Homo sapiens: one gene and its partners. The main gene of each other region encodes a partner of the protein of the gene in region 2 in a complex. Each region holds a gene or a part of one and is shown on either strand. Other genes may lie near its edges. The genes, in order: SNRPF, LSM3, PRPF3, SNRNP40, TXNL4A, PRPF31 and SART1.

The links.
Region 1: LSM3 (region 2) and SNRPF share a complex: the UniProt entries of both Homo sapiens proteins name them as parts of the U4/U6-U5 tri-snRNP complex.
Region 3: LSM3 (region 2) and PRPF3 share a complex: the UniProt entries of both Homo sapiens proteins name them as parts of the precatalytic spliceosome.
Region 4: LSM3 (region 2) and SNRNP40 share a complex: the UniProt entries of both Homo sapiens proteins name them as parts of the U4/U6-U5 tri-snRNP complex.
Region 5: LSM3 (region 2) and TXNL4A share a complex: the UniProt entries of both Homo sapiens proteins name them as parts of the precatalytic spliceosome.
Region 6: LSM3 (region 2) and PRPF31 share a complex: the UniProt entries of both Homo sapiens proteins name them as parts of the U4/U6-U5 tri-snRNP complex.
Region 7: LSM3 (region 2) and SART1 share a complex: the UniProt entries of both Homo sapiens proteins name them as parts of the U4/U6-U5 tri-snRNP complex.

The regions. Positions count from the first base shown.
Region 1 is NC_000012.12:95,861,952-95,864,295, forward strand, and holds part of SNRPF (small nuclear ribonucleoprotein F), read left to right. Parts: intron 1-2,344. UniProt on the Homo sapiens protein: Plays a role in pre-mRNA splicing as a core component of the spliceosomal U1, U2, U4 and U5 small nuclear ribonucleoproteins (snRNPs), the building blocks of the spliceosome.
Region 2 is NC_000003.12:14,181,817-14,185,316, forward strand, and holds part of LSM3 (U6 snRNA-associated Sm-like protein LSm3), read left to right. Parts: intron 1-2,120; coding exon 2,121-2,216; intron 2,217-3,500. UniProt on the Homo sapiens protein: Plays a role in pre-mRNA splicing as component of the U4/U6-U5 tri-snRNP complex that is involved in spliceosome assembly, and as component of the precatalytic spliceosome (spliceosome B complex).
Region 3 is NC_000001.11:150,338,533-150,342,032, forward strand, and holds part of PRPF3 (U4/U6 small nuclear ribonucleoprotein Prp3), read left to right. Parts: intron 1-1,865; coding exon 1,866-1,945; intron 1,946-3,497; coding exon of another isoform or gene 3,498-3,500. UniProt on the Homo sapiens protein: Plays a role in pre-mRNA splicing as component of the U4/U6-U5 tri-snRNP complex that is involved in spliceosome assembly, and as component of the precatalytic spliceosome (spliceosome B complex).
Region 4 is NC_000001.11:31,269,289-31,272,788, reverse strand, and holds part of SNRNP40 (U5 small nuclear ribonucleoprotein 40 kDa protein), read left to right. Parts: intron 1-1,289; coding exon 1,290-1,410; intron 1,411-3,500. UniProt on the Homo sapiens protein: Required for pre-mRNA splicing as component of the activated spliceosome. Component of the U5 small nuclear ribonucleoprotein (snRNP) complex and the U4/U6-U5 tri-snRNP complex, building blocks of the spliceosome.
Region 5 is NC_000018.10:79,982,064-79,985,563, reverse strand, and holds part of TXNL4A (thioredoxin-like protein 4A), read left to right. Parts: intron 1-3,500. UniProt on the Homo sapiens protein: Plays a role in pre-mRNA splicing as component of the U5 snRNP and U4/U6-U5 tri-snRNP complexes that are involved in spliceosome assembly, and as component of the precatalytic spliceosome (spliceosome B complex).
Region 6 is NC_000019.10:54,128,984-54,132,213, forward strand, and holds the end of PRPF31 (U4/U6 small nuclear ribonucleoprotein Prp31), read left to right. Parts: intron 1-73; coding exon 74-202; intron 203-288; coding exon 289-387; intron 388-2,323; coding exon 2,324-2,449; 3' UTR 2,450-2,730; downstream 2,731-3,230. UniProt on the Homo sapiens protein: Involved in pre-mRNA splicing as component of the spliceosome. Required for the assembly of the U4/U5/U6 tri-snRNP complex, one of the building blocks of the spliceosome.
Region 7 is NC_000011.10:65,971,734-65,975,233, reverse strand, and holds part of SART1 (U4/U6.U5 tri-snRNP-associated protein 1), read right to left. Parts: intron 1-3,500. UniProt on the Homo sapiens protein: Plays a role in mRNA splicing as a component of the U4/U6-U5 tri-snRNP, one of the building blocks of the spliceosome. May also bind to DNA.

The DNA of each region.
Region 1 (2,344 bases), on a different chromosome or scaffold from region 2:
AAATTTTTTGCCCATTAAACAATAATTTTCCATTAAACAATAATTTTACAATTAAACATTAAACAATAATTTTCCATTCCTTCCTCCACCTAACTAACCCCTGGTAACCACTAGTCTACATGTCTATGAATTTGACCGTGCATAATACCTCATGTAAGTGGAATTGTGTATTATCCTTTTGTGTCTGGCTTGTTTGACTTAACGTAGTGTATTATTCAAGGTTCATCCATGTTGTAGCATGTGTCAGAATTTCCTTTTTATGACTGAATAATATTCCATTATATGGATATACCACATTCTAATCCATTTGCCTCTTGGTGGACACTGGGTTGCTTCCCTCTTTGGACTGTAGTAAATAATGCTGCTGTGAACATGGGTATACGAATGTCTGTTCCAGTCACTGCTTTCAGCTCTTTGGGGTATATACCCAGAAGTGGAATTACTGGATTACTGGTAATTCTATGTTTAATTTTTTAAGGAGGCCAAGCGTGGTGGCTCATGCCTGTAATCCCAGCACTTTGGGAGGCTGAGGCAGCAGATTGCTTGAGCCCAGGAGTTTGAGACCAGCCTGGGCAACATAGTGAAACTGCATCTCTACAAAAAAAATACAAAAACTAGCTAGGCATGATGGTGTGGGCAGCTATATTCCCAGCTACTCAGGAAGCTGAGTTGGGAGGATTACCTGAGCCTGGGGAGGTTGAAGCTGCAGTGAGCTGTGATCACTGCACTCTAGCCTGGATGACAGAGAAATTTTTTTTTTTCTTTTGAGTAACTGTCACACTATTTTCCACAGCAGCTACGTGGTTTTACATACCCACCAGCAATGCACAACGGTTCCAGTTTCTCCACATCCTCACCAACACTTGTTATTTTCTATGGGTGTTTATAAAATAGTTATTCTAATGGGTGTGAAGTGGTATCTTATTGTGGTTTTGATTTGCATTTGGCTAATGATGTTGAGCACCTTTTCATGTGTTTATTGGCCATTTGTTTATCTTTGGAGAAATGCCTGTTCATGTCTTTTGCACATTTAAAAAATTAGTTTGGGATTTTTTGTTGTTTTTTTAATGGTAGTAGTTTCCAGGCAGGTTTTTAAAGGCTATCAAGACAGGTGGTCAATCCAATCATGAATCCAAGGATTCCATACTTGTAAGCAGAGTACTAAAAGGAGTACTTAAGTAGGCAGAGAGCTATGATTTTCCTTAACTTAGGCAATTACCACCTGAGCACATGACATTAAGGCCCCCAAAGCATAGTTTGAGTGTGGAAAATTCCTTAAACAGGAGTCATTTACCAAGACCATAGAAAAATCTGGGAAGTATATGAATTGTGATGAAAATATTCTGGAAGTAGTGGTGATAGTTGCACAGGTTTTTGAATATACTGAAAACCACTGAATTGTACACTTTAAAAGGGTGAATTTTATGCTATGGAAATTAACATCTCAATAATAAAAGAATTACCACTTAATATTTGTTTTAGAATTAATATAGCTTGCTAGTGACCCTGCTAGAGTTGCAAAATGTCTGAGTAACCAACCACTTTGAGTAGTCAACCATATTGATACCAGTGTTTGAATTTGTTCACTCAGCAAATATTTATTGAATTCCATTATGTGCCTGGCACTGTGAATATAGCATTGAACAAAACAAAGTCCCTGCCCTCAACAGTTTATGGTTTAGTGGTGGGAGGTGGTAATATAATGTGATAATAGGCATGATAGATGCCATCCATGAAGAAAAGGGGGAAGACAGTATGTGCAATATTATATAGAGTAGCCTCTCTGAGGAGGCGAATTCTGGAAGATACCAGAATTAGTGTACAACTCAGTTGAGTATCTGGGGAAAAGCATCCCAGTTTGAGGGAACAGCAAGTACAAAGGCCCTGTGGCAGAAGCATGCTTGGTGTGTTCAAGGCACAGCAAAAAGGCCAGAGCAGATTGAGTTAAGGGACGAATGACAGAAAGTTAGGTTAAAATGGCGGCCATAGAGAGCCTGTTAAGTGATGGTGAAGAACATGATAGAAAGTATTTGGAACATTATTGTGTAATTTAGAAATGTTAAATGTTGTAATTACTTTTTACAAAAAATTAGTTGCTCTTAATACATTATTTCTTATAGCTGTTACATACAAACTGTCTCAACAACCTCGTATATTTCAGACAAAACTATATCATCTGGATAATGGAGATTACTTTTTGTTGTCTATAAGAAAGGGAGTAACATCCAGTAGTAGTGTTCATTACCATGTTTTTCATGCCTTATGAAACATCCTATTTTAATCCTTATTGTTAAGCCCTATTTTTCTTTTCCTTTTCCACGTGCCTAATTGTGAAGGAAACCTC
Region 2 (3,500 bases):
GGCATGTATTCACATTTTTAACATTTTTTCTTTTAATAGAAATACGTTTATTATAGAACATTTTTATTCCCTTCATTTTTCCCTTCTGTTTATTTGTAAATAATATTTACTTGTCCTCCATTCGTAAATGTTTTTTAAATTTAAAACACAAATATGTGTTTTATTAGGAAAAGTTAAACAGCACAAAAATATATAGAGTAAAAAGTGAAATCCCATTTCTTCTACTGGTAATCACTACTAAAAATGGGATTATCTTGGCCAGGTGCAGTGGCTCATTCCTGTAATCTCAGCACTTTGGGAGACTGGGGCAGGAGGATCACTTGAGGCCAGGAGTTCTCTGTGTTGCCAGCCTGGGCAACATAGAGAGACCCTGTCTCTACAAAAAATAAAATTTAAAAATTGGGTTACCTTTTCTGTATGTTTACACATATACACTCATATATGTACATGTGCACATACTTGCATTATGTACACCCTACCTCTACAAAACATGGATCTTGCCATACATGTTTTTCAGTACCTTTTTTTTTTTTCACTTAATCTTTCTTGGAAATTGATCATGAGTGCATTTAATTTTCGTTTATTCTTTTTAATGACTACCTAGGATTCTGTATATGATAGTGATCGATTTTTTTTCATTTCTTGCTACAAATACGTAAATACTTGCAGTAAGCATTTTTTTACATATTTCTTTGTGCATATCTGCAAAATATCTGTAGAATTGGTCCCTTGAAATAATCCCATTTGTTCATAGAGAACCCTGAAGGTTTTGCCTCTCCTTAATGACTTGTTACTTTCCTAAGTGTGTTGTTTTTAGTATTGCTACTCTACCCTAAAGTGATTAAAAATAGCTAACATTTATTGAGCATTAATTATAGACCAGGTACTATTATTCTAAGCATTTTGTGTGTGATATCTCATTTAATCTTTATAACAACCCTATGATGATACATACTAATTATTCCTGCTTTGCAGTGTAGGAAGCTCAGGCTCAGAAAGGTACAGTCACTTGACGGTAAAGGGAGAGCCAGAATTTGAATCTAGGTTGTCTGACCTGAGCCCCACTCTTAAGTACTGTGGTTCCGCCTTCCACAAAACCTAAAGATAAAGAACCTCTGGGCTTGGAAAGGAAATAGGGACCCAGGGAGACAATCTACAGCTGGCCTTAAAGGAAGAGAGACTCCAGGAAAGGAATGGTGGTAACTTTGGGAATACAAATGGAATTGAGTTTAATTACTTAAGTTTGTGGCTCTTGGAGGCTTCTTCAGTTCCCTGTGTAAACTTGATGGTCTCTATCCTAAATGGCCCCAACTTTCTGTTTGTTTTGTGCCTCTCAGCTATACATGTTTGATCTTGTTAGTGTGCCCTGCTTAGCAGTTCCCCACATGGCTGACAAGTGACTTTTATTTTGATGTGAGCAGGTGAACCATGTAACACGTTGTTAGAAGTAAACTTGAGTTCTGAACAAGGTCCCAGAAAGTGCACCTTTTAGTAAAATGAATGAACTTTGGAGCTTGGATTGAATATCTTAGCTGTAACATTTATTGATTGAGCCCACAGGTACTAAACACATTTAAGTTCTGGATAGGTTAGAAATGGGCAGGGTGTTGCTCTACTTACTTTCTCTCTGCGACATGTGGTCTACTGTGTGCCTTTAGAAGACTGCAATGGCATTATCTTACCAGTAAACAAAGGATTTTATCTTCTTTACTGTATTTTTCTTGTCAGATTGTTATAGGTGAAATTGAAGGATGTCTACTGATAAATGATGAAGATGAATCTGCTGTTTTTCATAATTAAATATTATAAATGATGTGACTGCCTTAGATAACAAGTGGGGTGGAGACTTTAAAAATAATTTCAAGTGATTTGAAGTAAATTTATTTTTGGCAATATAAGCAGTTTTATATTTTTATCAGGTCAATTAAGTAATCATTGGAAGTGACTTGTGAAGAAACAGTATATTAGTACTGTAGGATTACTTTTTATTTGCATGTAAAAGTTTGTGATGTAAGTATCAAATGCCCTAGTTGTAATTGAGCAATTTGCATATTGTTAAGCCTTTATCATTTTTGTAATTTGATTATTAAATTTCTTGGTTCTGTACCCTCCCACTTTAGGCTTATGATCAACATTTAAATATGATCTTGGGAGATGTGGAAGAAACTGTGACTACTATAGAAATTGATGAAGAAACATATGAAGAGATATATAAAGTAAGTCATGCAATTCTATTCATTGCTTTGCAAATATCAGCTGTTCTCTCTCGAACAGCTTAACCCATATTTATGGGAAGCCTGTCATGTTTTGACACCTACTTATGGACTCAGTAGAGCATAGCAATTAAAAGCAAGGGTTCTGGCATCTGACAGACCCTGTTGCCAGTACTGGCTTGACCACTTCCTACTTGGGCTACCTTGGGCAAGGGAATTAAGTTAGCTGAGTTCTCATTGGTGAGCAGGAATACTACCACTTACCTCATAGGGTTCCCAGATTCAGTGAGATACAACAATGCAAGGTGGCTATGTATAATAGTGTGTAACAGTAATAGTGGACAGTGTTCTTTCGTTTTCTGTGGATTTGATCTATTAATACTTAATTTATTAGAAACTGAAACTGAAAAATTTTTTAAATATTTATTCATTAAAAAAACCTGGGCCGGGCGCGGTGGCTCACGCCTGTAATCCCAGCACTTTGGGAGGCCGAGGCGGGCGGATCACGAGGTCAGGAGATCGAGACCATCCCGGCTAAAAAAACGGTGAAACCCCGTCTCTACTAAAAATACAAAAAATTAGCCGGGCGTAGTGGCGGGCGCCTGTAGTCCCAGCTACTTGGGAGGCTGAGGCAGGAGAATGGCGTGAACCCGGGAGGCGGAGCTTGCAGTGAGCCGAGATCCCGCCACTGCACTCCAGCCTGGGCGACAGAGCGAGACTCCGTCTCAAAAAAAAAAAAAACCTGGCCAGGCATGGTGGCTCACACCTGTAATCCTAGCACTTTGGGAGGCTGAGGCAGGTGGATCACCTGAGGTCAGGAGTTCGAGACCAGCCTGACCAATATGGTGAAGCCCTGTCTCTGCTAAAAATACAAAAAATTAGCTGGGTGTGGTGGCATATATCTATAATCCCAGCTACTTGGGAGGCTGAGGCAGGAGAACTGCTTGAATCTTGGAGGCGGAGGTTGCAGTGAGCTGAGATTGTGCCATTGCCCTCCAGCCTTGTCAACAAGAGTGAAACGCTGTCTCAAAAAAAAAAAGGCTGGGTGCAGTGGCTCATGCCTGCAATCCCACCACTTTGGGAGGCCAAAGCGGGTGGATCACCTGAGGTCAGGAGTTCGAGACCACCCTGGCCAACATGGCAAAACCCTGTCTCTACTAAAAATACAAAATATTAGCCGGCCGTGGCGGCAGGCACTGGCAATCCCAGCTACTCGGGAGGCTGAGGCAGGAGAATCACTTGAACCTGGGAGGTAGAGGTTGCGGTAAGCTGAGATCGTGCTACTGT
Region 3 (3,500 bases), on a different chromosome or scaffold from region 2:
CTCTGTCACCCAGGCTGGAGTGCAGTGGCACGATCTCAGCTCACTGCAACCTCCACCTCCCGGGTTCAAGAGATTCTCCTTGAATTCTCCTTGAATCTCAGCCCCTCAAGTAGCTGGGACTACAGGTGTGTGCCACCATGCCCATCTGCTTTTTGTATTTTTGATAGAGACAGGGTTTTGCCATGTTGGCCAGGCTGGTCTCGAACTCCTGACCTCAGGTGATCCGCCCACCTTAGCCTCCCAAAGTGCTGGGATTACAGGCGTGAGCCACTGCACCTGGCCAAGCTCCTGCATTTGTAAGTGATGTATCATATATATAGGCTGTTTTTAGCTTTTGGGGTTAATGTAGGATAACCAGGGACACAATCTACAAAAGCAAAGTCTAGAATTCTTTTTGCTCTGTTACACATTGTTGCCTGTTTTTAGCATTATTTTCCTTAATTACATTCTTTTGCTACGTATTATAGGTGTTTACATTTCCTAAAGATCTCATTGTGATAGAGCAAGGATTATTAGTTGGTAGGTGAGATAATAGTAAATATAGCATATAAGGCTGGGCTCGGTGGCTGACACCTGTTATTCCAGCACTTTGGGAGGCTGAGGGCTGAAGGATTGCTTGAGCCCAGGAGTTAAAGACCAGCTTGGGCAATATGGTGAGACCTCGTTTCTACAAAGATTAAAAAAAAAAAAAAAGTAGCTGGGCATGGTGGCTTGTGCCTGTAGTCCTGGCTACCCAGGAGGCTGATGTGAGAGAATCACTTGAGCCCAGGAGGGTCTGTGCTGCAGTCAGCTATGATCATGACCACTGCACTCTATCCTGGACAACAGGGTGAAACTCTGTCTCAAAAAAAAAAAGGATATAAGACACATTTGAAGAGCTTTAAATATATCTGCTCCATCCATTTTTTTTTTTTTTTTCCTGAGACGGAGTTTCGCTCTTGTTGCCCAGGCTGGAGTGCAGTGGAGCAATCTTGGTTCACCACAGCCTCCGCCTCCTGGGTTCAAGTGATTCTCCTGCCTCAGCCTCCCAAGTAGCTGAGATTATAGGCATGCACCACCACGCCTGGCTAATTTTTGGTGTTTTTAGTAGAGACGAGGTTTCTCCATGTTGGTCAGGCTGGTCCCAAATTCCCGACCTCAGGTGATCCACCCGCCTCAGCCTCCCAAAGGGCTGGGATTACAGGCATGAGCCACCACGCCTGGCGTTTTTTTTTTTTTTTTTTTTTTTTAAGACAGAGTCTCACTCTGTTGCACAATCTCGGCTCGCTGCAACCTCTGTCTCCTGGGTTGAAGCAGTTCTTCTAGCTCAGCCTCATAAGTATCCGGGACTACAGGCAAATACCACCACACCTGGCCAGTTTTTATATTTTTAGTAGACAAGAGTTTCACTATTTGGCCAAACTGGTCTCAAACTCCTGACCTCAGGTGATCCACCTGCCTTCATCTCCCAAAGTGCTGGGATTATAGGCATAAGCCACATCACCTGGCCCTGCTCCATCATTCTGATACATGGCTTTAGTAGATTTTGTCTTAGCCTTTCGTTGCCCCTTCTTTGTCAGCCACTGTTCCAGGGACTTATTGTCACTAATGAGAGAACATAGCGTCTGTCAGCTGTGGCATGGTAGAAAAAAGGTTGAGAATGATTGCTGTGGAGAGTGTGTTCAACCATAGAGGGACTCAGTTTTCTCATCATGAAAATTATGTGTAATTTAACTATATATTTTAGGTACCTAAATGCTATTTTAGGTATATCAAGCACAAGAACCCATTATAGAGAGTGGGTTTTTTCATTGTATTTCTGAGACTCCTCTCTTAGAATCATCTCTACCCGCATATCGTGTTTTCTTTTCTTCCTACAATTTTAGTACAGAGGAAAATCCCAAGAGAGAAGATTATTTTGGAATCACAAATCTTGTTGAACATCCAGCCCAGCTCAATCCTCCAGGTAATGTATAGATTCCTGAATCAAGTCTCTAGAGCAGCATTACCCATTGGAAATTTATACAGTGAGGAACATGTTCTGTATCTATGCTGTTCAATACAATAGCCACTACCCATGTGTAATTCTTTTTTTTAATTCAGTTTTTTTCCTGACAATAGTTTGTTGTTTGACCAGTGAACATACATTTTAAGTGCATATTCCTGTGCTTAGAATTTCATGAGACAGCCAAGCATGGTGGCTCATGCCTCTAATCCAAACACTTTCGGAGGCCAAGGCAGGAGGATTGCTTGAGGCCAAGAATTCAAGACCAGTCTGGGCAACACAGTGAGACCCATCTCAAGGAAAAAAAATTTGGCTGGGTATGGTGGCTTATGCCTGTAATCACTGCACTTTGGGAGGCTGAGGTGGGCAGATTGCTTGAGCTCAGGAGTTCGAGATCTAGGCAACATGGCAAAACCCCATCTCTACAAAAAATAAAAAATCAGCCGGGCATGGTGGTGTGCATCTGTAGTCCCAGCCTCTTGGGAGGCTGAGGTGTGGAGGATGGCTTGAGCCTGGGAGGTGGAAGTTGCAGTGAGCTGAGATGGTGCTGCTGCACTCCAGCCTGGATGATACTGCCAGACCTTGTCTCAAAAAAAAAAAAAAAAAAAAAAGAAGAAAGAAAGAAAGAAAAAAACCCAAAATTTCATGAAGCTTTACATTTACAGTTCCCTGGTTGTTCCTAGGAAAGAGCCCTCAGCTTGCTCCTTTTATAGAACCACATGTTGTTGTGGCATCCACAGCTAAATGCAAATGCAAGAGCCAAACTCTTGGGTTGGTGTGTTATTAGATGCGATATGCTCCACTACCCACTGTGAGGGATGCTAATTCCAAAGGGCTTTTTGTTAGTTTCCCAAAGTTGAAACTGGGAAACAAAGTTGCTTCTATTTTTTTTTTTTTTTTTTTTTTGAGGAGGAGTTTCGCTCTTGTGGTCCAGGCTGCAGTGCAACGGCATGATCTCAGCTCACCACAACCTCTGCCTCCTGGGTTCAAGCAATTCTCCTGCCTCAGCCTCCTGAGTAGCTGGGATTACAGGCATGTGCCACCACGCCCAGCTAATTTTGTATTTTTAGTAGAGACAGGGTTTCACCATGTTTGGTCAGGCTGGTCTTGAACTCCTGACCTCAGGTGATCTGCCAGCCTTGGCCTCCCAAAGTGCTGGGATTATAGGTGTGAGCCACCGCGCCCGGCCTTTTTTTTTTTTTTGAGTTGGAGTTTCGCTTTTGTCACCCAGGCTGGAGTGCAATGGCACTATCTCCGTTCACTGCAACTTTCACCCCCCTGGGTTGAAGCTATTCTCCGGCCTTAGCCTCCGGAGTAGCTTGGATTATAGGTGCCTGCCACCACACCTGGCTAGTTTTTGAACTTTTAGTAGAGACAGGGTTTTGCCATGTTGGTCATGCTTGTCTTGAACTCCTGACCTCAAGTGATCTGCCCACCTAGGCTTCCCAAAGTGCTGGGTTTACCGGCGTGAGCCACCGCACCTGGCCCTAATTTTGTTTTCTACATTTGCCAGGTA
Region 4 (3,500 bases), on a different chromosome or scaffold from region 2:
GTAAAGATAAATACTGTTTTGTATTTTCCTTTTTTGCTTAATAGCTTATTATGTAAATATTTTTACATTTGGTCTTCTGAGTTATTTTTAGGAACTGCTTAACAATAGCTACACATTATTGAGGACCTGTCTTGTGCCCGGCATATGCTAAGCATTCTTATAATCCTTACAACAGCCGTAAGAAGTAGCTATTGTTATCCCTAATCTTACAGACCAGGAAACAGGCCCAGAAAGAATTAGTGACCCAATGACACATAACTCTAAGTGGCAAGGAACAGTTTATTCTTACCCTAAGTCACCACTCTTTCTACTCTGTCATGCTATCTCCTGTATGAGAATTCAGTTTTGCAATGTGCTTATGAACCATAATTTAATAAACCACCTATTTTTCCTGCTTGACGTTTAGGTTATTTTCTGTATCTTACGTTTCCTATACAAGCAATAGTGAACCTGTAATTTATTTTTATTTTAATAAATGTGCTTTTCCATAGTGTATGTGCATGTACATATCCATACATGTACATATATATACATTTATTGTCACATATTGTTACATTAAAAGAAAAATTTTAAGCATCTGTATTTTTCATATTGTTACACAAACATGTAATCATAATGCCTTTTTTAAATGACATGTTCGTTTTATGTATTTATAATAATTTTTAATGGCTAAGAATCATAGCCATTTTTAGTTTTTTTCTATAATAGTTTTTCTTTGCTATGATTTGAAAATAACCTTTCTGAATTCTATTTTTTTGTGTGTAAAACTTTATCTTAACATTTGATATGCATTCGTTTATATTTATCTAGTCAAACGTGGTAGCCTGAGCTACCTTTTTAGAAAGACAGAGATTGGCCAGGCATAGTGGCTCATGCGTGTTAATCCAAATACTGAGAGGATGAGGTGGGAGGATTGCTTGAGCTCGGGAGTTCAAGACTAGCCTGGGCAACATGGTGAAACCTGTCTCTTCAGAAAAATTAGCTGGGTATAGTAGCATGCTCCTGTAGTCCCAGCTACTGGGGAGGCTTAGATGGGAGAATCACCTGAGCCCGGGAAGTCAAGGCTACAGCGAGCCATGATAGTGCCACTGCACTGGGCAACAGAGTGAGACGCTGTCTCAAAAAAAAAATGAAAATTAAAAAAAGGTGTTTTTCTCTTTGACAGAAATCCTGTGTTTTATAGTAGAGTAATATCAGTGTCTCTGGGCAATTGACTCTTGTCTCTTGTGTCATTCTCTTTCTCTGCTTTTATTAATTTGATTTCTGGGGGCACCTTTCTGTTTTTGCAGGTCTGGGACCTGCGCCAGAACAAGCTAACCTACACCATGAGAGGCCATGCAGATTCAGTGACTGGCCTGAGTTTAAGTTCTGAAGGCTCTTATCTTTTGTCCAATGCAATGGACAATACAGGTAACTTTGGAAAGGAAATCTCTCCCAGGATCCAAGGAAAAAGTCAAAGATTGCTCACAGATTCCATCAGACGATTAGAATGTGTTGTAATGGGGAAAGCTTTAGGTGAGATAGTCAAGAATCTAGGACTGTAGTCTCAGATCTCTGTCTTGTCCCTGAACAACTTTGCACACAGCATTTCTTCTCTCTAGGCATCAGTTTCTACATTGATAAGAAGATTGGACTTTACCTTTAAGACCCATCTCAGCTCTGGTATGCTGTGTATCCAACAGGATATTAGAAACTCTAGGTGATGAGTTTAATGAAAAAGATGTGAATCTAGAAGTCTATTCAAGGCAGTTCTTGTGCGTTTTCAGAGAGCACCAAGCTTGGATGATCTCTTCTGCTCTTTCCTGCCAGTCTGTCTTCCCTCCCCACTCTGAAAGCATTGGTGTGGGAAGAGGTCTTCATTAAAACATTCTGGATTTACACGAACACACTCTTGCTCTTTCTCTTTACTTGTTTTTGAGTTGTAGGGTGGGAGGATGGGTTACTACAGAAAAAAAGTAAGGTGACTTGCTGGATTATATGCTTAATGTTGAGGGAGTTTGGAAATGGCCCTGGTATACAAAATTATAGGCTTGTCAGGAACTAAAATGTATTCCCTGACATTTTGTAACAAAAACAATACCTGACATTCATTGGGTACTTAATAAATATTTGTTGAATTAATGGACATCTTTACCTTTTAACTATATTCTCAATGGCAAACTTTCACGCATAGCTTTGCCTTTTTATGCCTGTCTGACTCCAAGGATTGATAATACTTTTTTCATACTCAAATAAAATGACATCACTGAAATTCCACTATAGGTATAGCTTCAGTTACAACGGCTATAGCTACTGCTTACAATAGATGTTTATACACATTTAATCTAGCATTAAAAAAATATTTTTTCCTTAATTTTTTTGATAAGACAGGATCTTGCTGTGTTGCCCAGGCTGGTCTCAAACTCCTGGGCCCAGGCAAGCCTCCCAAGTACCATGCCTAGCTAATTCTAGCGTTCTTTATGAGGAACAATGAGGTTTCCTAGATTGATACTAAAATAAGGAAAAAATAATAGAATAATTTCTTGTGGCTGCATAATACAATTACAAATTCTTTATTTTTGTTTGTTGCCTACAAATTTTAGAACCTTTGCACATATATCATCTCATTGGATCTTTAAAATAGTGTTATTGGCTGGGCAGGGTAGATCACCTGAGGTCAGGAGTTTGAGACCAGCCTGGCCAATGTGGTGAAACCCCATCTCTACTAAAAATACAAAAATTAGCCAGGTGTGGTGGTGGGCACCTGTAATCCCAGCTACTTGGGAGGCTGAGGCAGGAGAATCACTTGAATCTGGGAGGCGGAGGTTGCAGTGAGCCGAGATCACGCCACTGCACTCCAGGCTAGGCAACAAGAGCGAAACTCCATCTCAATCATATCAGTCAATAATATTATTTTAAAAAGAAGACAGATAATTTTCTCTTCATTTTACAGAACAGAAAAACCAAGACACAAACAATCTCACTGTTTACCTGACATCACCCAAATATGTAACAGAGATAGAATCAATGTTTACTTTTTCTGATTTTTGGTATGGTACAGTGCTTTTTTGATTTATTTGACCTTTTATATATTTTATATATATCTGACCTTGTCCAGTCTTAGACTATCAGGTGCCCATATGAGGGAAATTAGGAAAGGGCGATGTAAGTTTGGCTTTTATAAGTTCATTGTCACAGTAGTTCCTGGTATTTAGTTTGTCACATTGAAGCTTTGCTGGATGTGACTAAGCTGGCAGAGAAATCTTGCAAAATATCTTTTTGAAATTAGTATCACACCCAACTGCATTCTGTTGCAAATTACCAACATTGTGTGTGACATTTTTCCTTCCTGCCCCCTCAGCTAGCCCCAGTTATTGGGATTTAGATGTGTTTTCCTGCTTGAAAAAGAAAAGAGCCTTAACAGGTAGCAGTATGTCAAGTTGGACTTTGCCCACCGAGGAAACAGCATCTGCCATTGATTGACATGATACTAATTTCAGCTGGGTGCCCAGGAGGCCTCT
Region 5 (3,500 bases), on a different chromosome or scaffold from region 2:
ATAAAGTTTTCATCTGGGCACTGTGTCTCACGCCTGTGGTCCCAGCATTTTGGGAGGCCGAGGTGGGTGGTTCCCTTGAGCCCAGGAGTTCGAGAACAGCCCGGGCAACATGGTGAAACCTTGTCTGTACAAAAAATGCAAACATTAGCTAGGCGTTGTGGCATGTGCCTGTGGTCCCAACTACTTGGTAGGCCGAGGTGGGAGGATATGAGTCCAGGAGTTCAAGGCTGTGACAAGCCGTGATCGCGCCACTGCATGCCAGCCTGGGTGACAGAGCGAGACCCTGTCTCAAAAAAAAAAAGTTTTCTATTTAGCAGCTGATTTTATGCAGTTTTGAAGCGAGACAATTTCATGTACGAGCTGTCTTTCCATTTTGTAGGAACACTGTCACAGGAGACAATTTCATGGACCTTTGAGCTGTCTTTCCATTTTGTAGGAACACCATCACAGGAGACAATTTCATGTACCTTTGAGCTATCTTTCCATTTTGTAGGAACACCGTCACAGGAGACAATTTCATGGACCTTTGAGCTGTCTTTCCATTTTGTGGGAACGCCGTCACAGGAGACAATTTCATGTGCCTTTGAGCTGTCTTTCTATTTTGTAGGAACGCTCTCAGAGGGGACAATTTCATGTGCCTTTGAGCTGTCTTTCCATTTTGTAGGAACACTCACAGCAGTGCTTGGGGTTCACTGTTACCTAAATCCCATGATGGGTGAGAAGACTGAATGGGACGTTTATTTTTTGTGTTAAAAAGCCCACGCAAATAGAGTTTAAAATAGTCTCAGTGAGCTGGGCATTGTAGCATGTGCCTGTAACCCCACTACTCAGGAGGCTAAGACAGAGTATGAGCTCAGGAGGTCAAGGCTGCAGTAAGCTATCATCGTGCCGTTGCACTCCACCCTGGGTGATAGAGCGAGACCCCATCTCTAAAAACAAAACAAAAAAATTCCTCAGTAATATTATTGACTCATGATAGTACATTTTTTTTGTTTGTTTGAGACAAGAGTCTTCTTGTGTTGTCCAGGCTAGAGTGCAGTGGCACGATCTTGGCTCACTGCAACCTCAGCCTCCTGAGTAGCTGGGACTACAGGCCTGCACCACCACCACACCCTGCTAATTTTTGTATTTTTGGTAGAGATGTGGTTTTGCCATATTGGCCGGCTGGTCTCAAACTCCTGTCCTCAAGTGAGCCAGTCACCTCAGCCTCCCAAAATTCTGGGATTACAAGTGTGAGCCACCATGCCTGGCCCATGATAGTACATTCTAATAAATTGTGTGTAAGGCAGATATATATTTATGGAACTTCATAGGAGCCATATTAAGGGGTGTATCTTAAGTATCACATTAAGGATCACAGAACGCCTACTGAACCAGTGAGAGTCAACACTCAGCTAGATGAGGAATCTTGTAGAAACAAACAGAATGGATATTTTTGGTGTTTCCTCTGGATTTTTGTCTCTGGAAAAAAAACAGCCTTGTAGCTAGCCACAAGGTATGAGGGGTGATGTTGAGCCGTGGTTGAGGGTGCAGACTCTAGCCACAAGGTATGAGGGGTGGTGTTGAGTGGCGGTTGAGGGTGCAGACTCTAGCCACAAGGTATGAGGAGTGGTGTTGAGCGGCGGTTGAGGGTGCAGACTCTAGCTAGGCTCTTGGCACTTCATAACTGCATGAGCGTTACGAACTTGGCCCCGTGGGTCATCTTACCTGTAAAAAGGGCATACTTGTGCCTCACTCATAGGGTTGTGGTGGGATTAATAAAGGTTTCTAGAGCACTCCTGTCACATGGGCAGTAATGCCACTGTTATTACTGTGATTACTTCTCTCACATTACTAAGTTTGCAAGTTATTGTGAGAGCTGATTAAGGCAAACATTAATTTTAGAAAGTCAAGTTTTTCAGTTTTTTTTATGGCTTTGACATGAATTACCTAAAAATGTAAAAATAAACACTTCAAAAATTTGTTGTGCTAATCAACTGCCCAGAACACTTTTTCCGGAATTTTAGGTGTTTTCTTAGCTGGTTGAGGGACTCCATACAAAAGTGTAGAACAGTGGTTGGTATCATGTGCCAGTTTGGTCATGTGTTTTGCAGAGTTATGTCATTGTAACTTGGCAGGTGGACTTAGAGGCATGCGGAAGAACTGCTGAGCACTTTAATTGCTGACTTGCCTAAAGAAAAAGCATGCTTATGAGGTGTATAGGCAACAGAGTTGGAAAAGATACTTACAATTCAAGGCAATCAAAGAATTTAAAAACAATTTGAGGCCAGCGCCGTGGCTTAAACCTGTAATTCCAGCAGTTTGGGAAGCCGAGGCAGGCGAATCATCTGAGGTCAAGAGTTCGAGACCAGCTTGGCCAACATGTTGAAACCCCATCTCTACTAAAAATACAAAACTTAGCCAGATGTGGTGGTGGGCGCTTGTAATCCCAGCTACTCGGGAGGCTGAGGTGGGAGGATCTCTTGAGGCTGGGAAACAGAGGTTGCAGTGAGCCGAGATCACGCCACTCTGCTCCAGCCTGGGTGACAAAGTGAGATCCCATCTAAAAAAGAAAAGAAAAAGCTGCCTTTGTTGAGGAAGTCACAGGATGACTTGGCAGAGCAGTGTGGCTGCACTCACCCAGCTCCTCCTCCAAGCGCTTGGTTACCGTGGAAATGTCGCCACCAGCAGATGCTGCTGGATGTTTGCTGATGTTTGCCCTCAGCTCATGCTCCTCCAGTCACCCCACAGATGCCATTTCACCAAGAAAATGGGGTGGTGGGAGGCTGGGGAGCTCCCCTCTGCCTGCCTCTTTCAGCCTCTCCTATCTGAACTCCCAAGTCCCACAGTAACTTCCCTCTCTCTCCATAGCCACGGCTTTTGAAAGTTGTCCACACTGAAGTCCTCTGTTCCTCAGTCCTTCAGCCCCTGCAGTGTCCCCGTTCCCATATCGTCCTTTCTGGTAACCTCTCTGGGGCACTCGGCACAGCTCCCCGGAGTCTCCTGCCTTGGTTTCTGAGACTGCCTCCTTGGCATCCCTTTCCTGCCCCCAACTCTACAGTGGGCTTCTGCACTCACTCCCAAGCCTGGCACCTGCCACCCTGGCTGGGATCACTGCTGGATGTAGGTGGCGGCAGTAAGGTAGCTCTCTCCAGCCCAGACTCCATTGTACAGCTCCAGGCCAGTCGCTACCTGGAGGGCCTTTTTCTCTGGATGTCCCTTAGTTTTCTCAAACTCAGTATATACAAAACTGAACTCTTCAATTCCTGCTTTCTTAGAAATAAATACATGGCCCAGAATCCCAAGTGGAAAAGGTCCTCTGTGGGCCAGTCCACCTGCGCATCGGTCCCCACTGTCCTGCACTTCTGCTTCCTTGCCCTGGTGCTGGATCTGAGACCTGGCTGCTGGTCTTGTGTCTTTCTCTTTACACATGGAATTCTCTAAGGACAGATATTTCCCTGCCACCCCGTGACCACACTGCCGCCCCGTCTCCTGTGGGTTAGGCTGATTCTGTCATCCAG
Region 6 (3,230 bases), on a different chromosome or scaffold from region 2:
TGGAGGGGGTGCCTCGGTGGCTGGAGGGCAGGGCCTGGTCGCTGAACTGCAGGGCGCCTCCTCTCCCCCCTAGATCGAGGAGGACGCCTACCAGGAGGACCTGGGATTCAGCCTGGGCCACCTGGGCAAGTCGGGCAGTGGGCGTGTGCGGCAGACACAGGTAAACGAGGCCACCAAGGCCAGGATCTCCAAGACGCTGCAGGTATGGGCCAGACCCAGGTGGGGCTGGGGACCGAGGGACACAAGGTGGGGGGAGCCCAGATCGCAGCCTCCCTGTCCTCCCCACAGCGGACCCTGCAGAAGCAGAGCGTCGTATATGGCGGGAAGTCCACCATCCGCGACCGCTCCTCGGGCACGGCCTCCAGCGTGGCCTTCACCCCACTCCAGGTACCTCCCCTGGGCCGGCTCTGTCCCCAGCCCTGAGACCTTGGCAAGGCCCCTTGCCCTCTGCCCCTGTGAAGAAGGCCAGGATGAGTCTCCTCATGGGGCTGTTGTGGAGGGTGTGGTGACGAGGTATGCAGAGGACGTAGACAGCTCCTGGCACACAGGAAGAGGTTAGCAGAGACGAGAGCCCAGCGCTGAGCAGTCCTCGTGAGCACGCACTGCTTTAGAACCAGGCCCACAGCTGTGTTCAGGGCACCCAGTTCCTCTGTCGGGCTGTGAGCGGGTAACACTGCTCAGCCTCCAGGCCCTCCAGTTCAAAACGGCCAGGACGGTTAAGGTAACCTCAGGACCCCACTCGAGAAAGTTCCCGGCTAGGCGGGCTTGGATGTCAAGTGTGGGTCCAGGCCCCAGCCAGTCAGCAGTGAGCAGCGTGGAGCATGGCAGTCACCGCATCGTCGGAGCCTCGGTTTACCATCCACAGAGCAGGGCGAGCCTGCACCACGGAGGCGAGACAGCAGCGAGCTCATCTGCCCAGTCAGCGGGTGTCTACGCAGCACCTGCTGAGTTCTGTCAGTGTTCCCGGCTCTGGGGATGAAGCAACGAATGAGAGACAAGTCTTACCTTCTTGGAGCCAGTGGGTGGCCGGGCGCAGACAGCTCAGTAAGATGTCCAGTGTAGGAGAAGGCAGAAATGCCAGGCCGGGCGCAGACAGCTCAGTAAGATGTCCAGTGTAGGAGAAGGCAGAAATGCCAGGCCGGGCGCAGACAGCTCAGTAAGATGTCCAGTGTAGGAGAAGGCAGAAATGCCAGGCCGGGCGCAGACAGCTCAGTAAGATGTCCAGTGTAGGAGAAGGCAGAAATGCCAGGCTGGGCGCAGACAGCTCAGTAAGATGTCCAGTGTAGGAGAAGGCAGAAATGCCAGGCCGGGCGCAGACAGCTCAGTAAGATGCCCAGTGTAGTAGAAGGCAGAAATGCCAGGCCGGGCGCGGTGGCTCACGCCTGTAATCCCAGCACTTTGGGAGGCCGAGGCAGGTGGATCATGAGGTCAGGAGATCGAGACCATCCTGGCTAACACGGTGAAACCCCGTCTCTACTAAAAATACAAAAACTTAGCCGGGCGTGGTGGCGGGCGCCTGTAGTCCCAGCTACTTGGGAGGCTGAGGCAGGAGAATGGCGTGAACCCGGGAGGCGGAGCTTGCAGTGAGCCGAGATCGCGCCACTGCACTTCAGCCTGGGCGACAGAGCCAGACTCTGTCTCAAAAAAAAAAAAAAGAAGGCAGAAATGCCAGGGAGGGGAGGAGGTGGAAGGTAGGAGGTGGGACAGGGGAGGCTCTCGTTTCGGAGCAGCCAGGGAGGGCCTCTTTGAGAAGATGAGGCCAGTGGCTGTGCCTTTCCAAGCCTCCCCTCCTCCATCATGAGGTGCTCAGGACTGAAAAGAACGCACAGGAAGCACTTGGCACTGGGCTCACCATTAGAGCCCAATGACTGGGTCCTGTTATTATTTTTAGAGACGGGGGCTCGCTCTGTTGCCTTGAAAATATTTAGGAAGTGCCAGCCAGGTGTTGGCTCCCATTGCTGCCACTATGATCGTCAGTGGTGTTGGTGTGATTTGTGCTAGGACCTCGGGCCAGCCATGTCCCCCAGGGACTCAGTTTCCTTATGCAGAAACTGGGCAGGATTGGCTGTCCTCAAGCATTGGTTGTTTTTAGCACCCCTGAGGAACTTCGTACAAATCCAGGCGCCCTGGTTCCTCCCCACCCTCTCCCTCTAGACCCACTGAGTCAGAATCTCCCAAGACAGGGCAACTCCAGGGACAGGCAAACTGTCTCATGCCCACCAAGGCCTGAGTGCCATGGGGAAGGGCCTGGGGGGCTCTGATGGGTCACAGTTGGGGCCTTCTCCTCACCTAACCCATCATCCTCTCTCCCTCACCTGCCCAGGGCCTGGAGATTGTGAACCCACAGGCGGCAGAGAAGAAGGTGGCTGAGGCCAACCAGAAGTATTTCTCCAGCATGGCTGAGTTCCTCAAGGTCAAGGGCGAGAAGAGTGGCCTTATGTCCACCTGAATGACTGCGTGTGTCCAAGGTGGCTTCCCACTGAAGGGACACAGAGGTCCAGTCCTTCTGAAGGGCTAGGATCGGGTTCTGGCAGGGAGAACCTGCCCTGCCACTGGCCCCATTGCTGGGACTGCCCAGGGAGGAGGCCTTGGAAGAGTCCGGCCTGGCCTCCCCCAGGACCGAGATCACCGCCCAGTATGGGCTAGAGCAGGTCTTCATCATGCCTTGTCTTTTTTAACTGAGAAAGGAGATTTTTTGAAAAGAGTACAATTAAAAGGACATTGTCAAGATCTGTCCTTGGGGAGTGATCATTTTTCAAACAGCCGGGGCAACTAGAAGAATCAGAGCTGTGGAGCTTTGAGAAAAGAGCTTGGCCCTCGGGTCCAAGCGGTGTCTAGGCCCACTCCCTTCCCCGTTACTTTCTCGTCATGGGATCCCAGAAGGAAAAAGCCCTCTCCAACCCCCTGGAGAGCCGCAGTCACTTTGATAGCAAATGATGTGGCTGCCAACAGCCGCAGATCTCAGCGCAGGCCGACCGGGATTGCTGTCCACCTCAGGCCAGCCTCCTCACCTTTCCAAGCCTCCACACCTACGCCCAGGTGCCCAGGACTGGAAAGAATGCACAGAAAGCACTTAGCATGGGACTTGCCATCAGCGCCCTATAACCAGGTCCTGTTATGATTGGGTTTTTTAGAGACGGGGTCTCTGTTGCCCAGGTTGGAGTACAGTGATGCGATGAAGCTCACTAAAGCCTCAAACTCCTGGGCTGGGATTACAGGCATGAACCAGC
Region 7 (3,500 bases), on a different chromosome or scaffold from region 2:
CTACTTGGGAGGCTGGGGTGGGTGGATTGCTTGAGCCTGGAGGCCGAGGCTATGGTGAGCCGTGATCTTGCCACTGCACTCAAGCCTGGGCAACAGAGCAATACCCTGTCTCCAAAAAAAAAAAAAAAAAAAGTCTTCCAGGACATCCAGGAACATTTGTTTGTTTGTTTGTCTTTTAATTTTTATTTCTTTTTGAGACAGAGTCTCACTTTGTCGCCCAGGCTGGAGTGCAGTGGCGCGATCTCAGCTCACTGCAAGCTCCGCCTCCTGGGTTCACAGCATTCTCCTGCCTCAGCCTCCCGAGTAGCTGGGACTACAGGCGCCCGCCACCACGCCCAGCTAATTTTTTTGTATTTTTTTTCAGTAGAGATGGGGTTTCACCGTACTAGCCTGGATGGTCTCCATCTCCTGACCTCGTGATTTGCCTGCCTTGGCCTCCCAAAGTGTTGGGGTTACAGACGTGAGCCACCGCGCCTGGCCAGGAACACTTATTTTTTAATGAACATTGTAAACATAAAACGAGGTATATCTAATGCATCATATGCTACTTATTTATTGAGACCATCTCACTCTATCACCCATGCTGGAGTGCAATGGGGCGATATAGGCTCACTGCAACCTCCACCTCCCAGGTTCAAGTGATCCTCCTCCCTCAGCCTCCTAAGTAGCTGGGACTACAGGTGCATGCCTCCACAACCAGCTAATTTTTGTATTTTTAGTAGAGACAGGGTTTCACCATGTTGCCCAGGCTGGTCCCAAAACCAGCTTCAAGTGATCCACTCACCTCAGCCTCCCAAAGTGCTGGGACTATAGGTGTGAACCACCACACCCGGCTGATATGGTTTTTTTTTTTTTTTTTTTTGAGACAGAGTCTCACTGTTGGCCAGGCTGGAGTGAAGTGGCACGATCTTGGCTCACTGCAACCTCCACCTCTCGGGTTCAAGTGATTCTCCTGCCTCAGCCTCCTGAGTAGCTGGGATTACAGGCATGCACCACCATGCTCGGCTAATTTTTTTTTTTTTTTTTTTTTTTTTTAGTAGAGAGGGGGTTTCACCATGTTAGCCAGGATGGTCTCAATCTCCTGATCTTGTGATCCACCTGCCTAGGCCTCCCAAAGTGCTGATATTACAGGTGTGAGCCACCGCACCCAGCGGCTGATATAGTTTTTAAAACATTAACTAAACACACACCCATGTCCCTCTCCCTGGGGCTGGGGCAGCATCACTAATGCCCTGCCCAGACTTGAGTGTCCCCTCCCCATCCATGGTCATGACTCACCGGCTTGTCTTCATGGCTTTAGCACATAAGGACCTGCCCCTGAACAGTTATTTTGTTGTGTATTAATTATTCTATAACCTGAGTCACACTGTATGACTCTTCTGTGATTTGTTTTGTAAAAAAATCTGTGCCCCTGAGAGTAACCCTGATGCACACGGCTGTAGCTCATCAGTTTCCACTATGGAATCACAGCCCGTGAGCTGGATGCTCCTTGATCTGGCTCTCTAGCCCACTGAGGATGGACTTTTTTTGTCCCAAGTACTGCGGCTGCAGGCCCACTGACAATGTCTCCTGGTGCACATGGGCACACTCGGGAGAGGTGTGGGGTGGGCCCCGGGCACGCACACATTCCCTCTCATCTGATTAGACTCCTGCCCATGGCTGTGAGTAGCGTGGCTGAGGACTCTGGCCGCTCCATGTCCTTTACTCCTACTCGCTACTGTCAGGCTTGGACCTTTCTGCGGAATTGTTGGCAGGTGGCAGGTGCCTCACTGTTTTGGTTCACCTTTCTGTGATCCCTCCTGAAACTGGATTCACCGGGTATTTTCCTGGTGAGTTAGGCTTTCTCTTCTGTGAACTGCCTGTCTTATCTACATCTTTCGCCTATTTTCCTGTTGTGTTGATTTGTTTTGTCTGTTTGTATACTCTTGACACCAACCCATTCTTGGTGGTATATATGGGCAAATATCTTCTCTTTTTGGTCTGCCTTTTTATATTCTTCATGGTATGTTTTGTAAAAAAACAAAAAACAAAAAACTTACGTTCTCAATTTCTTTTTTTTTGAGACGGAGTCTTGCTCTGTCACCCAGGCTGGAGTGCAGTGGTGCGATCTCGGCTCACTGCAAGCTCCGCCTCCTGGGTTCACACCATTCTCCTGCCTCAGCCTCCCTAGTAGCTGGGACTACAGGTGCCCGCCACCACGTCTGGTTAATTTTTTTGTATTTTTTTTAGTAGAGACAGGGTTTCACTGTGTTGACCAGGATGGTCTCATCTCCTGACCTCGTGATCCGCCCGCCTTGGCCTCCCAAAGTGCTGGGATTACAGGCGTGAGCCATCGCGCCCGGCCACGTTCTCAATTTCTATGTAGTTACACGTTCACTTTTTTCTTCATGGTTTCTTGAAGAAACTCACCCATGGAACCTGTGGGTTTCTTGGTTTTTTTTTTTTTTTGAGACAGGATCTTGTTCTATCACCCAGGCTATCATAGCTATCTGTGATATAGTCAGCTATAGTCTATCATAGCTGACTATAACCTCGAACTCCTAGATTCAAGCAATCCTCCTGCCTTAGCCTCCGGCGTAGCTGAGGCTTCAGACACATGCTACCATGCCCAGCTAATTAAAAAAACATTTTTAGAGATGGGGTTGGTAGGGGGGGTGGTCTTGCTGTGTTGCCCCAGGCTGGTCTCAAATTCCTGGCCTCAAGCAATTCTCCTGCCTTGGCTATGCTGACAACTTAAAAAATCTTTTCTACCAAAAAGTTATAAATGTAATTTCCTTAATTTGATTCCGAAATGTGAAGTTTTTACTTTGAAGTTCTTAATCTATCTGCAAGGTGTGAGGTATAAACCCAATTTCATTTTTTCCCCAAATAGATAACTGACTGTCCCACGCCCACTCGCTGCACTGACGAGCGACTCTTCCCACTGGGACACGATTCTGTCTCGGGGCCCCGCTGTCTGGTCTCTCTGTTCTGTTAGTCTATCCTTATGCAATCCCACACTGCCACAATGCCCCTACTTTATCCAATTTCAGAATCATTTTCCAGCTTCCAAAATAATCCCTATTGGGATTTTTACTGGAGTTGCATTTAACCTAGAAATGAACTACATGAGATGGACATCTTGACAATATATTGTCCTATCTAGGAATTGTGTAACCCCTAAATTCATATCGGGAAGCCCTAACCCCCAATGACTGTATGTGGACAGAGCACCTTTAGGAGGTGGAAATTGCAGTGAGCTGAGATAGAGTCACTGCACCCCAGCCTGGGTGACAAAGTGAGACACTATCACAAAACAAAACAACCCCTCAATTCCAAGGATCCTTTCTGTTCTCTCCAGCCTTTCTTTCTAGCTCATTGACTGTATTAACTTCAATCCAGTAATTCTTCAACCACATCACGACTCCAGGCCCTGTCCTCACACCCATCATTCTCTGTTATGTCCCTCATTACCCAGTTTAGACTCAGGGGGAAATCAACAGAACCTCTCCTTTGTGAAA